Linked DNA regions of Homo sapiens: region 2 is linked to region 1. Evidence: fine-mapped expression QTL. Tissue or cell type: T cells. Region 1 holds a variant in brackets; the other region holds the start of a gene. All regions are shown on one strand. Distances are between the middles of the regions.

Region 1 (7,340 bases):
GAGGAGGACAGGAAGTCTCACGGCTTCTTTCTTTGCTAGTAGAAATGATACACCTACGAGAGGAGGACAGGAAGTCTCACGGCTTCTTTCTTTGCTAGTAGAAATGATACACCTACGAGAGGAGGACAGGAAGTCTCACGGCTTCTTTCTTTGCTAGTAGAAATGATACACCTACGAGAGGAGGACAGGAAGTCTCACGGCTTCTTTCTTTGCTAGTAGAAATGATACACCTACGAGAGGAGGACAGGAAGTCTCACGGCTTCTTTCTTTGCTAGTAGAAATGATACACCTACGAGAGGAGGACAGGAAGTCTCACGGCTTCTTTCTTTGCTAGTAGAAATGATACACCTACGAGAGGAGGACAGGAAGTCTCACGGCTTCTTTCTTTGCTAGTAGAAATGATACACCTACGAGAGGAGGACAGGAAGTCTCACGGCTTTCTTTGCTAGTAGAAATGATACACCTACGAGAGGAGGACAGGAAGTCTCACGGCTTCTTTCTTTGCTAGTAGAAATGATACACCTACGAGAGGAGGACAGGAAGTCTCACGGCTTCTTTCTTTGCTAGTAGAAATGATACACCTACGAGAGGAGGACAGGAAGTCTCACGGCTTCTTTCTTTGCTAGTAGAAATGATACACCTACGAGAGGAGGACAGGAAGTCTCACGGCTTCTTTCTTTGCTAGTAGAAATGATACACCTACGAGAGGAGGACAGGAAGTCTCATGGCTTCTTTCTTTGCTAGTAGAAATGATACACCTACGAGAGGAGGACAGGAAGTCTCATGGCTTCTTTTACTCTTCCCCTCTCCCCCACACCCTTTTTTTTTTTTTTTTTTTGAGAGGGAGTCTTTCTGTCACCCAGGCTAGAGGGCTAGAGTGCAGTGGCACGATCTTGGCTTACTGCAACCTCCACCTCTTGGGTTCAAGCAGTTCTCCTACGTCAGTCACCTGAGTAGCTGGGATTACAGGCACCCGCCACCATACCCAGCTAATTTTTGTATTTTTAGAAGAGACAGAGTTTCACCATGTTGGCCAGGTTGGTCTCGAACTCCTGACCTCAAGCAACCTGCCCGCCTTGGTCTTCCCTGTCTTTTATCTTTGTCTGTAGACTTAAGGCTATAGAAAAGTTTCCAAAGATGATCTAACTTAGGAAGTAGGGCTTGGGTTCCCTCTAATGCCTTCTTTTAAGGAGTCACCCACTGAGTTATGTTTCTCTCAAGAAAAATAAATAATGAAATTACTATTTTCTGTTATATTTTATGACAGTTTGTCTTTCTTTCCTTCCTTCCTTTCTTCTTCTTTCTTTCTTTCCTTCTTTCTTTCTTGAGACAGGGTCTCGCCGTGTTGCTCAGGCCGGAGTGCAGTGGTGCAGTCATGGCTCACTGCATCCTTGACCTGGGCTCAAGCAATCCTCCCGCCTTAACCTCCCAAGTGGCTGGGACTACAGGCGTGTGCCACCATGCTTGGCCAATTTTTTTTATTTTTATTTTTTGTCTTGTTATGCTGCCCAGGCTGGTCTTAAACTCCTGGCCTTAAGCAATCCTGCCACTTCAGCCTCCCAAAGTGTTGAGATTACAGGCATCAGCTGCCATACCCAGCATATGACAGGTTATTAAGCTATAACTAGCGTTCTACAGAATCCACCCATTTAAAGTTTACGATTCAGTGGTTTTAGTATATTCACAGAGCTATGCGCTATCACCACAATCCTAGAACCTTCTCATCACCCCAGAAAGAAATCCTGTGTCCGTGAGTTGTTGCTCCCCATTTTCATACCTCTGTAGCCTTTTGTTTTTGTTTTTGTTTTTTTTTTGAGACAGGGTGGGTCTCTGTCTCCCAAGCTGGAGTGTATGGTGCAATCAATCTTGGCTCTCTGCCACATTTGCTTCCTGGGCTCAAGCAATTCTCCTGCCTCAGCCTCCTGAGTAGCTGGGACTACAGGCATGCGCCACCACACCTGGCTAATTTTTTTCTATTTTTTGTAGAGACGCGGTTTTGCCATGTTGTTCAGGCTGGTCTCAAACTCCTGAGCTCAGATGATCCACCTGCCTCGGCCTCCCAGAGTGCTGGGATTACAAGCGTGAGCCACCGTGCCTGTCTAACCTTGTTTTTTTACTTTCTTTCTCTACACATTTTTTTCTGGACATTTTATATACAGATGTTCAACTTATGGGCTTATATCCTGATAAACCCATTGTAAGTTGAAAATATCATAAGTCTAAAATGGATTTGAGGCTGGGTGCTGTGGCTCACACCTATAATCTCAGCACATTGCGGGGCTGAGGCGGGTGGATCACTTGAGGTCAGGAGTTTGAGACCAGCCTGGCCAACATGGTAAAACCCTGTCTCTACTAAAGATACAAAAAAATTAGCCAGGCATGATGGTGGGCACCTATAATTCCAGCTACTCGGGAGGCTGAGGCAGGAGAATTGCTTGAACCTGGCGGAGGCAGAGGTTGCAGTGAGCCGAGATCGTGACACTGTACTCCAGCCTGGGCAAAAGAGCGAGACTCTGTCTCAAAAAATAAATAAAATAAAATAAAATGAAATAAAATGCGTGTGATACACCTAACCTACTGAACTTTACAGCTTAGCCTGCCTACGTCAAACATGCTCAGAACACCTACCTTAGCCTACAGTTGGGCAGAGTCATCGAACGTAAAGTGTTGAATAACTCACGTAATTTATTGAATGCTACGATGAAAGTGAAAAACAGACTGGTGGTTTGAGTCAAAGTATTGCTTCTACTGAGCGTGGTGGCTTTTGCATCGTCCGACACCGTGAGTGGAATCACACGACACGTGGTCTTTTGTGACTGGCCTTAACTTAGTGTGTTTTCAGGGTTCCTCCATGTTGTAGCATGGAGGTATTGAAATCCTTTGCCTACTTTTACATTGGATTGTGTCTTTATTATGGTCTATGTATTATTTTTGTCTGTTGTTTTATTATTGAGTTGTAAGAGATGTTTTTATATATTCTGGATATATTGTCACTTATCAGAGACATGATTTGCAACTACAGATGGTCCCTGACTTCCCATGGTTTGACTTTTGCCGTGGTTCAAAAGCAGTTTGCATTCAGTAGAAACTGTCCATGGAGGAAGAGCCAG[C/T]GCAGTTTGCGTTCAGTAGAAACTGTCCATGGAGGAAGAGCCAGCACCTTTGCCGCAGGCCCCTGAGGGTCTGGGTGCTGGGTCCTTGCCCCACGCATTCTTCTCACCACTGACCTTTGTGCCAGCGTCTCTGCCTCAGATCCTTGCTCTTGGCTCTGCTTTCTGTCTGGGATGGTTTTCTGGTGCTGGCAGGGCCCTGGGAGGGTCTGGGAGGCATGTGGCTCCGGTTGCACTTTGCTCACGGTCCATGTCGTGGTCCCCCATGTTGGCATGCCGCAGTGGTGCCTGTGCTCCTGCACCCTGTTGCTCTGGCTGGGTTATTGTTCTCTTGTTGGTAGACACATTCTCTTGCACACATGGGAATATATTTGTCACATGAATGCCTTAAAGTAGAACTGCTGGGTCAAATATGTGCCTGTTTTATTTTGATAGAGAATGAGAAATTGCCCTCCATAGAGATATGTGCTTCTTTGCAGTATAAGATTTATGCCCCCTTCACCAAGTGAGCCAGTCAGCACATGTTTCAATGTTGCTCATCTGATACGTGCACAATGGTACTTAGAATAGTTTAATTAGCATCTTGAAAATAAGAATAGGGGCTGGGTGTGGTGGCTTATGCACTAATCCCAGCACTTTGGGAGGCTAAAGCAGGAGGGTTACTTGAGACCAGGAGTTTAACACCAGCCTAGGCAACATAAGGAGACCCTGTATCTATGAAACATAATGTACCATTGAGCATGGTGGTGCATGTCTGTGCTACTCGGGAGGCTGAGGTGAGAGTATCCCTTGAGCCTGGGAGTTGGAAGCTGCAGTGAACTATGATTGTACCACAGCACTTCAGCCTGAGTGACAGGGAGAGACCTTGACTCTCTCTCTTTTTTTTTTTTTTCTGAGACGTAGTCTTGCTCCGTTGCCCAGGCTGGAGTGGAGTGGCGTGATCTTGGCTTACTGCAACCTCCGCCTCCCGGGTTCAAGTGATTCTCCTGCCTCGGCCTCCCGAGTAAGCTGGGATTACGGGCACCCACCACCACGCCTGGCTAATTTTTGTATTTTATTTTTTAGTAGAGACAGGGTTTCACCAGGTTGGCCAGGCTGGTCTCGAACTCCTGACCACGTGATCCACCCTCGACCTCCCAAAGTGCTGGGATTACAGGTGTGAGCCCCCACACCTGGCTGAGACCTTGTCTCTTAAAAAAATAAAATAAAAAGGCTTTACATTTCTTTTCACATGTTTGAAAGTTGTTTGTATTTTTATTTTCTAGTGAACAGTGTGCCTATGTCCTTTGTGACATTTCTCTATTGTTTTTTCTGATTGGCGTGCAGTAGACTCACTTCCTCAGATCCCCAGTAGGCAGTGTCAGCATCTTGTGCTGATGTCTGTCAGTTTTAACCGTTCAGGAACTCCGTACTCCCCGTTGGGAATCTGCAGCTCTGATTTCCAAAATCACAAATAAGTTTTGTGTTCCTCTTTCAGGATGCCGAGGAATGTGACAGGGCTGGGAGTGTGGCCACCTGCCAGGCCGTCATGCGTGCCGTGATTGGGATTGGGATTGAGGAGGAAGATCGGAAGCATACCTGGATGGAGGATGCTGACAGTGTGAGTTGGCAACAGGGGCCTTTGTCCGTAATATGGAGTCTCTGCTTGTGGGAACAGCAGGCACCTTATAAACTACTAGGCTATTTTAAAACTCTTTTTTTTTTTTTTTAAATCTGAGACGGGGTCTTGCTCTGTCGCCCAGGCTGGAGTGCAGTGGCGCTATCTCAGCTCACTACAACCTCCACCTCCTGGGTTCACGCCATTCTCCTGCCTCAGCCTCCCGAGTAGCTGGGACTACAGGCATGTGCCACCACGCCCAGCTAATTTTTTGTATTTTTAGTAGAGACGGGGTTTCACCGTGTTAGCCAGGATGGTCTTAATCTCCTGACCTCGTGATCCACCCCGCCTTGGCTTCCCAAAGTGCTGGGATCACAGGCGTGAGCCACCGCGCCCGGCCTCCCAGAGTGCTGGGATCACAGGCGTGAGCCGCCATGCCTGGCCTCCCAAAGTGCTGGGATCACAGGCGTGAGCCACCGCGCCCGGCCTCCCAGAGTGCTGGGATCACAGGCGTGAGCCACCGCGCCCGGCCTCCCAGAGTGCTGGGATCACAGGCGTGAGCCGCCGCGCCCGGCCTCCCAGAGTGCTGGGATCACAGGCGTGAGCCGCCCTGCCCGGCCTCCCAGAGTGCTGGGATCACAGGCGTGAGCCGCCGCGCCCGGCCTCCCAGAGTGCTGGGATCACAGGCGTGAGCCGCCGCGCCCGGCCTCCCACGGTGCTGGGATCACAGGCGTGAGCTGCCGCGCCCGGCCTCCCACGGTGCTGGGATCACAGGCATGAGCCGCCGCGCCCGGCCTCCCAGAGTGCTGGGATCACAGGCGTGAGGCGCCACGCCTGGCCGCAGATTTGCTTTCTTACTCTGTTCGCTCTCATGCACTTACCTCTTATTTTTTTTTCTGGAACTGTTTGACAATGAATGAGTTGCAGATGTGGTGCCCTTTACCTTAAACACTTTGGTGTGTATTTCTTTAAAAGAGGACGTTCTCTTACACAGCCATAGCTCAGTTATCAAAATCAGGACATTGATGTTGGGACAGTGCTGTCAGGTAACTTCAGACCTTACTCAAATCTCACCCACAGGCTGGGCATGGGGCTGACGCCTGTAATTCCAGCACTTTGGGAGGCCGAGATGGGCAGATCGCTTGAGCTCGGGAGTTTGAAACCAGCCTGGGCAACATGGCAGAACACCATCTTTACAGAAACAAAAGCCAGGCATGGTGGTGCACGCTTGTAGTCCCAGCTACTCAGGAGGCTGAGGTGGGAGGATCACTTGAGCTCAGGAGTTTGGGGCCGTAGTGAGCTGTGATTGCGCCACTGCACTTCAGCCTGAGTGACAGCAAGACCCTATCTCAAAAAAAGAAAAAGTCTCACCCGTTGTCTCTGTGTCCTTTTAGCAGAAGAAAAAACCAACTGTCTTCTGTGAGGAATACAGGGTCATCCTCAGGCTAGTCTGGAAGAGAGCCTCAGCCTTTGTTGTTCCTGAGTGTGAATTTTTTGAGGACCACGGGCCAGTGATGCTGTAGACTCCTCTTTCATCTGGTTCTCTGTGGTGTCTCCTCCGGGTTGGGTTGAGGCTTCTTGGTGCATCATACGGAGAGGTGTGCACCTGTTCAACTCCGACCGTCTGGTGCGGGCAGTGGCCGCAGGTGTTTCCACTGTATGGTTGCTGTTTGTTTCTTTGTTATTATTAATAAGTATTTTGAGGATCCATTAATGATGCTTCTTGGCCTGAATCAGTTATTTCTGTGGTGTTTGCTAAATGGTGATTTTTTTTAAATCTTTTTTTATATATTAAATTTTTTTTGTAGAAACAGTATCTCACTATGTTGTCCAGGCTGGTTTCGAACTCCTGGCCTCAAGTGATCCCACCTCAGCCTCCCAAAGTATGTAGGATTACAGGCGTGTCACTGTGCCTGGTCACACCTGCATAATGATTTTGTGAACAGTTTCTCTTACATTTTATTAGTTGGAATTCTACAGTAACGAAGAGCTTCACTTTCTCCTTCATCCGTGTGCGTTCACTTCCTTCCATCTGGATTGGTCAATGGCTCCTCCTTTGGTCCTTGGAATCAGACCCCACTGCTGGCATTGACCGTGTGATACACACATGATTCTTTTGCACCCCGTGTGGCGTGACCCAGAGCTTGTGTGCCGGCTGGGCCATCCTCCTGCCCCATGTATGCTAAAATACACACATCAATCCTTAGGTGAGTTAAGACGCAGGGCAGCGGTAATAGTTTTTGTTGTTGGTTTTTTTTTTTTTTTTTTTTGGGACAGAGTCTCACTCTGTCTCCTAGGCTGGATGGAGTCCAGTGGCACGATCTTGGCTCACTGCAACCTCCGCCTCCCAGGTTCAAGGGTTCAAGCAATTCTCCTGCCTCAGCCTCCTGAGTAGCTGGGACTACAGGTGCCTGCCACCACACCTGGCTAATTTTTATATTTTTTATAGAGATGAGGTTTCGCCATGTTGGCCAGGCTGGTCTCGAACTCCTGACTTCAGGCCATCCACCTGCCTCAGCCTCCCAGAGCCACTGCTCCTGGCCTGTTTTTCTCTTATTATTTTGTCATCTCTTTCACATACACTGGAGTAAGCACAGCTGTTTTTCAAAGTGCTCGTGATGCTAGAGTAAGGAGGA
Region 2 (5,000 bases), 36 kb before region 1:
CCCTGCCCCATCTCCTCCACACTAGTGCGGGAAATCACCTCCCCAATGAGGGGTTCCCAAGCCTCCAAAGGCAGAAGGAAGTGTGCAGGACCTGTTTCGAGGACCTCACCCAGCACAAAAAGAGAAGAACTGGAAACACCTTTCATCTTGCAAGTCTACAGCCCTCACCCAGGGGAGCAGGATGGATTCTTAGATCAGAGGATGTGCCCTCTAGGGAAGGGAACCTGAGACATATGACAAGAGGAGCTATCCTGGGACAGCCCTGACCTCACCCTTGCCTTGGGCTGGCCCACAAGTCTTGCACACACCACACCAGACCAGGAAGTGCACACACGGCCTGCTTTGAGGAAAGGCAGATCCCGAGTCCGGGGAGGTCGTCTGTGCTGGGGAAACCGGGCTGAGGATGCTGCTTGCCCATCGCCACTGAAGGCACCCAGTTCACACAGCCCTATCTGGTGTTGGGGCCCGACTCACTGACTATGACTCATTGACAGCCTGAACTGTGGGCCAACTGACAAGCAGGGCTCACTCCGCAAACACGCGCTGGGCTCTCCAGCTGTGCCGCCCCCCACAGGGCCTGCAGCCCGGGACAACACCGGCCATGTGAATGGTGGGTACCCATTGGATATGGGCGGGTCAGCACAGGTATGTGGGGTGCAGCCATTGCTTGGGGACCCACGGTGATGCTCTGTGCTCCCTCTTCCCACAGTAACTGCATTAAAGTGTTTCATCTGAGCTTTGTCATCATCTCTGGGGGCACTGCTGACCTGAGTCTGGGGAGGCAGGCGTCTTGATCCAGGTCTGGTTACAGAGGGGCACCCCACATTCATTGTCAATGAATGAATGAATGAAGGCTCTGTATGGTATCTGCAAGTGAACAGAGCCTGTGGGGAGACAGAAGGTGGGCACAGGCCTGCCCCTGTCTTTACAGCACCCTAGCACCCAGGCCTTCAGCAGGGCAGGTGAGGTTCCCACGCTAGGGCCCTCATCCCATCCACCCTAGAGTGAGAGACCCTCCCGGCCTCAGACTCAGCCACCCACTCCACACCCAGGGCAGGGGTTGGGGATGTGTCTAGGAGGTCTAAGTATCGGTGAAAACCACATCCTACTTCCCCGTCCTCCCACGCCTGTAAGACTTAGGAGACATAACACCTTCCGCCCCCATTCTTGCAACTTTCAGGAACCGGACCCCTGGGTGACTCCAAATTTGAGGTCTGGGGTCAGCAGAGGGTGTGCTCAGTGGGCCACCGCCCCGAGGTGGCCCCTAGTGCTGTGGGAAAAGGCTTATTCTAAGCCCGCGCCTTCCAGCGGACAGGCGCCGTGGTCGCCGGGCTTTGCAGGGCCTCGAGCGGCGGGGCTGGTGCAGAAGCGCGCGGCAGTCCGGGGAAACCCGTCGGACTCCTCAGCCCGCACGGCACCTGCCCCGGCCAAGCAGGCTCCGCCCATTTCCTGCCTGCACTCCCGGAGGGAGTTCCGTCCGTCCCGCGGTCTGTCGGTCCGGTCCCTCCCGCCCCAACGTCAGGATTCCAGAAGGAAATGGGGCGGGGGCACCGAGGCGGGATGTGACCTCGGCCCCCTTTCGGCCCCACTGCAAAAGCGGGGGAGGGTTTTCCCCGTGCGCAGGAAAAGGTGACCCGAGCGTAGTGCCAGCCTGGACACAGGCGCCCCGGCTTGACACCCCCTCACCCCAAGCCAAGGGCGCGCTGACCCCCAAGGCCTGAGGCTGGCTGCCCCCTAAAGCAGGACAAAGGCTACGGGACCCCGTTGAGCCGAGACATCCGCCGAATACCCCCAGCCACCGCCGCTCGAAGCCCGCCGGGTCCCGCCCCGCCCCCGTGCCTCTGGGTCCCTGAGACCCCCGCCCGAGAAATCCCCGCTCCCCAATCCAGCCCCGCTCACCGTCCACATCCCGGCGCTCCCCGAAGCCCGCGCGCACGGCCCCGGCGCGGCCACGCGGGGGGCTCAGCTTGGACCTCAGCTCGGTGAACATGGGGCCCGCGGGTGCCAGGCCCGCGCACACGCCCCTCGCCGAGTGCAGGGCGGCCGGTGTGGCCGGCGGGGAACGCGCGCCGCCGCCCCGCCCCGCCCCAGCCGGCCCCGCGCCCGAGCCGGTCCCCGCGGCCCGCGAGTGTGCGCGACGAGGCACCTGCCGCCGAGCCCTGTGTGCCGGGCGCGCTCCGGGAGCTCCGAGGTGTGTCGGCGGCGCGCGGGCCTGCGTGCACCAAGGCTGTCCGCCAGGGCGAGGGGCGTCCGTGCGCCCCTGGGCACGGCTCCGCGGAGGAGAGTCCCCGTGAACCTGCCGGGCGTCCTCTGAGGTCGGGCCCCTCTGTGCGTGGGGGTGGGCTGAGGGGCATCTCACAGGGGTCTTCTACCTACCGGGGCCAGGACAAGGGGCAGGTCAACGCCTCCCACACACTTTCCTCGGTCTCCTACGTCTTTACTCGCCTTCAAATAGGCACCCGCTTCCCCGGAGAAACCAGCTTGACTCTTGCTTACCGCCCACCCCACTGTGAACATCAGGGTGGTTCTCCCTTCCCTCTGCAGCCCCAGAACCTGGCTCAGTGCCCGGGGGAGAGGGGGCGGTACAGTGCTCTGTAACTGAAAGGGGCTTGGCTTGCCTGGAGATGGGGCAGAGGGGAACTCCAAGGAGGCTGTAGCAGGCCGGAGCGGTGTGTTTGCTCCAGGACTCCAGTGAGAAGTGCTGAGATGGGGCTGGGCTAGGGAACTGTGGTTGCCTGGTGCAGCAGCAGGCCAGGCTTGCAACCAGCTATTCGGCTTGCTCTGCCCAGGAGCCTGGGTGCTCTCCCTGGGTGTATGTAGGGGCTCTGGAGGATGTCTTACAGCAGGAGGACCAGAGATGCACACAGACATGTAGAAATGCATGCACAGAGTACAGTCATGCACTTGCACCCAAAACACGAGCACACGTGACCTCTGTGCACACACCCCACTAATCACACACACAGAATTCACCCACATGCTTGACAGCCATGTTCATGTACTGACGTGTTCCCGACAGCTCAGCTGCGGTTATTTATTTCGTCAATTAGCTCTCCAGGAGCTAAGGATGTGGCCCTCACCAGAATGTCCAAGGCATGTTGGCGGGCGTGGGTGGGGTCTCTAGTCCCACTGGAGGGACAGATGCCTGAATGGGGGTTCAAGAATATGAGTGCTAAAAGCGTAGGGCAGCAGTGTGCGCACAGGACGCACACAGACAGGTGTGCCCATAACCAGTACACACAAGCTCTACACAACTGGACAGGGTACAGCTCTGCTCGGACAGGGCGCACCAGGGGCGAGGGCGGGCAGCTGGGCTGGTTCAGAGGGAGGGGGCCATGGGTTCAGAGGGAGGGGACCATGGGTCCCACTCTCACAGACAGGTCTCCGGACTGCATCAGAGCACTCGGGAAGCAGCAATGCCCCAGGCTGTTTTTAGCCCCCAGGGGCCAGTTAGGGTCCCAGTGCAAGCTCGACCTAGCTTCTTCCGCCTCTCCACGAGGAGGCGCTCCCGCGCACGCGCCTACCACGTTCCTGCCCCCTAGCCGCGGCCGGAAGTCGTCGAACCAGGACGTCGGGACTTCCGCCCAGGGAATCAAAAGTGGGCGGGGCGTGTGCGGACTGAGCGCTCTGCTTCCGGGGCGCGGGTGACGCGACGACGGCGACACTTTGCTACGGAGTGCATCGGACGTCGAAGCCTAGAGTCTCTGCGTCTTTCCCTCTTCCGCTGCCTCATTCCTTTCCTTCCTAGCCTTGGTCGTCGCCGCCACCATGAACAAGAAGAAGAAACCGTTCCTAGGGATGCCCGCGCCCCTCGGCTACGTGCCGGGGCTGGGCCGGGGGTGAGGCCTGGGGCGGCGCGCGAGGGGCGGGGACCCGGCTACAGGAGCGCAGTGCTTTGGGGCGTGTTTGGGGGCGGGGGTCTATGGCCGCGCAGTCTGAAAGACGCTTGGTGGATCGGCTTAATCCCTGCAGGAAGCAACGGGCTTTGGGGTCAGGACATACCTGTGTGTGCACCCTGCTTGCCGCCTAGATGTGACACATTGACTCTCAGCCCAGTGTTTTGGTCTGTAAGATGGGTAATGCTGTATACGGTCTGCAGTGAGGAGTAGAGGAATCTGACGTGTAGTGGAAACACGCGACCACCTTCCTCAGGTCGGGCTGACACTCCCCCCCCCCGCCCGCCCGCCCGCCCCGCCTTAAGCGTGCCTGGGTCCTCTATGCCTGCAACACAGATGACCACCGTGCGTTGCTGGATAAGTGAGCAGTCGTTATTATCCTATTTGGCTATTCATTTGATGAGGAACACTACTGGGTTTTTCTTGGTGGTGGTATTATATTGGAATCTGTGGGGCACACACAAGCTCACTAAGGAGGGTTTGCTATTACCATAAATAAGTACGTAAAGAGGACCAGATTTAGAACCCAGTGCTTAATGGAGAGTAGCATTGGAGCCAAGTTTAGTAAGAGAGCTGGACTTAGGGCTGTAGAAACGGTGACGATAGAAGAGAAACTGACATTCTGCGTGTGGGAGTTCAAAAAAAGTGAGGCAAGGAGGAAGCCCAGGGAACAGGAGGGAGTCCAGTGTGAGTGGAATGTACAGCGAATAGAATAGAGCTCAGGAGGTTGGAGGGGCCTTGAGCGTCAGGCTAGAGCTCCTGGAGACGTTAGAAAGATCATGACCCTTCAGAATTATTATTATTATTATTATTTTTTGAGACAAAGTCTTGTTCTGTCGCCCAAGCTGGAGTGCAATGGTGCGATCTCAGCTCCCTGCAATCTCTGCCCCCCGGGTTCAAGCAGTTCTCTGCCTCAGCCTCCTGAGTAGCTGGGATTATAGGTGCCCGCTACCACGCCCGGCTAATTTTTGTATTTTTAGTAGAGACAGGGTTTCACCATGTTGGCCAGGGGGGTCTTGAACTCCTGACCTCATGATCCACCCGCCTCCGTCTCCCAAAGTGCTGGGATTACAGGCGTGAGCCACCACGCCCGGCCCAGAATTT

What was found. PIP is the estimated chance that this variant, and not a neighbour inherited with it, causes the effect.
Region 2: it holds the start of SAMD10, and the variant in region 1 is fine-mapped to the expression of SAMD10 in T cells (TOPMed, PIP above 0.99). The same link has a PIP of 0.9 or more in blood mononuclear cells and whole blood.

Annotation. Positions count from the first base shown.
Region 1 is chr20:64,012,139-64,019,478 of GRCh38, forward strand. It overlaps PRPF6 (pre-mRNA processing factor 6), which reads left to right. Exons shown (of 21, transcript NM_012469.4): 12 at 4,585-4,707. Among named protein-coding and RNA genes, the nearest start is that of C20orf204, 20 kb to the right of the region's middle. RefSeq lists enhancers at 1-503, 4,561-5,760. The variant C/T (reference allele first, on the strand shown) is at 3,111.
Region 2 is chr20:63,977,478-63,982,477 of GRCh38, forward strand. It overlaps SAMD10 (sterile alpha motif domain containing 10), which reads right to left and starts at 2,165. Exons shown (of 5, transcript NM_080621.5): 1 at 1,900-2,165. The coding sequence starts at 1,990. It overlaps PRPF6 (pre-mRNA processing factor 6), which reads left to right and starts at 3,655. Exons shown (of 21, transcript NM_012469.4): 1 at 3,655-3,839. The coding sequence starts at 3,769. RefSeq lists enhancers at 1,319-1,613, 1,599-2,114, 2,710-2,769 and silencers at 1,960-2,279, 3,840-3,949.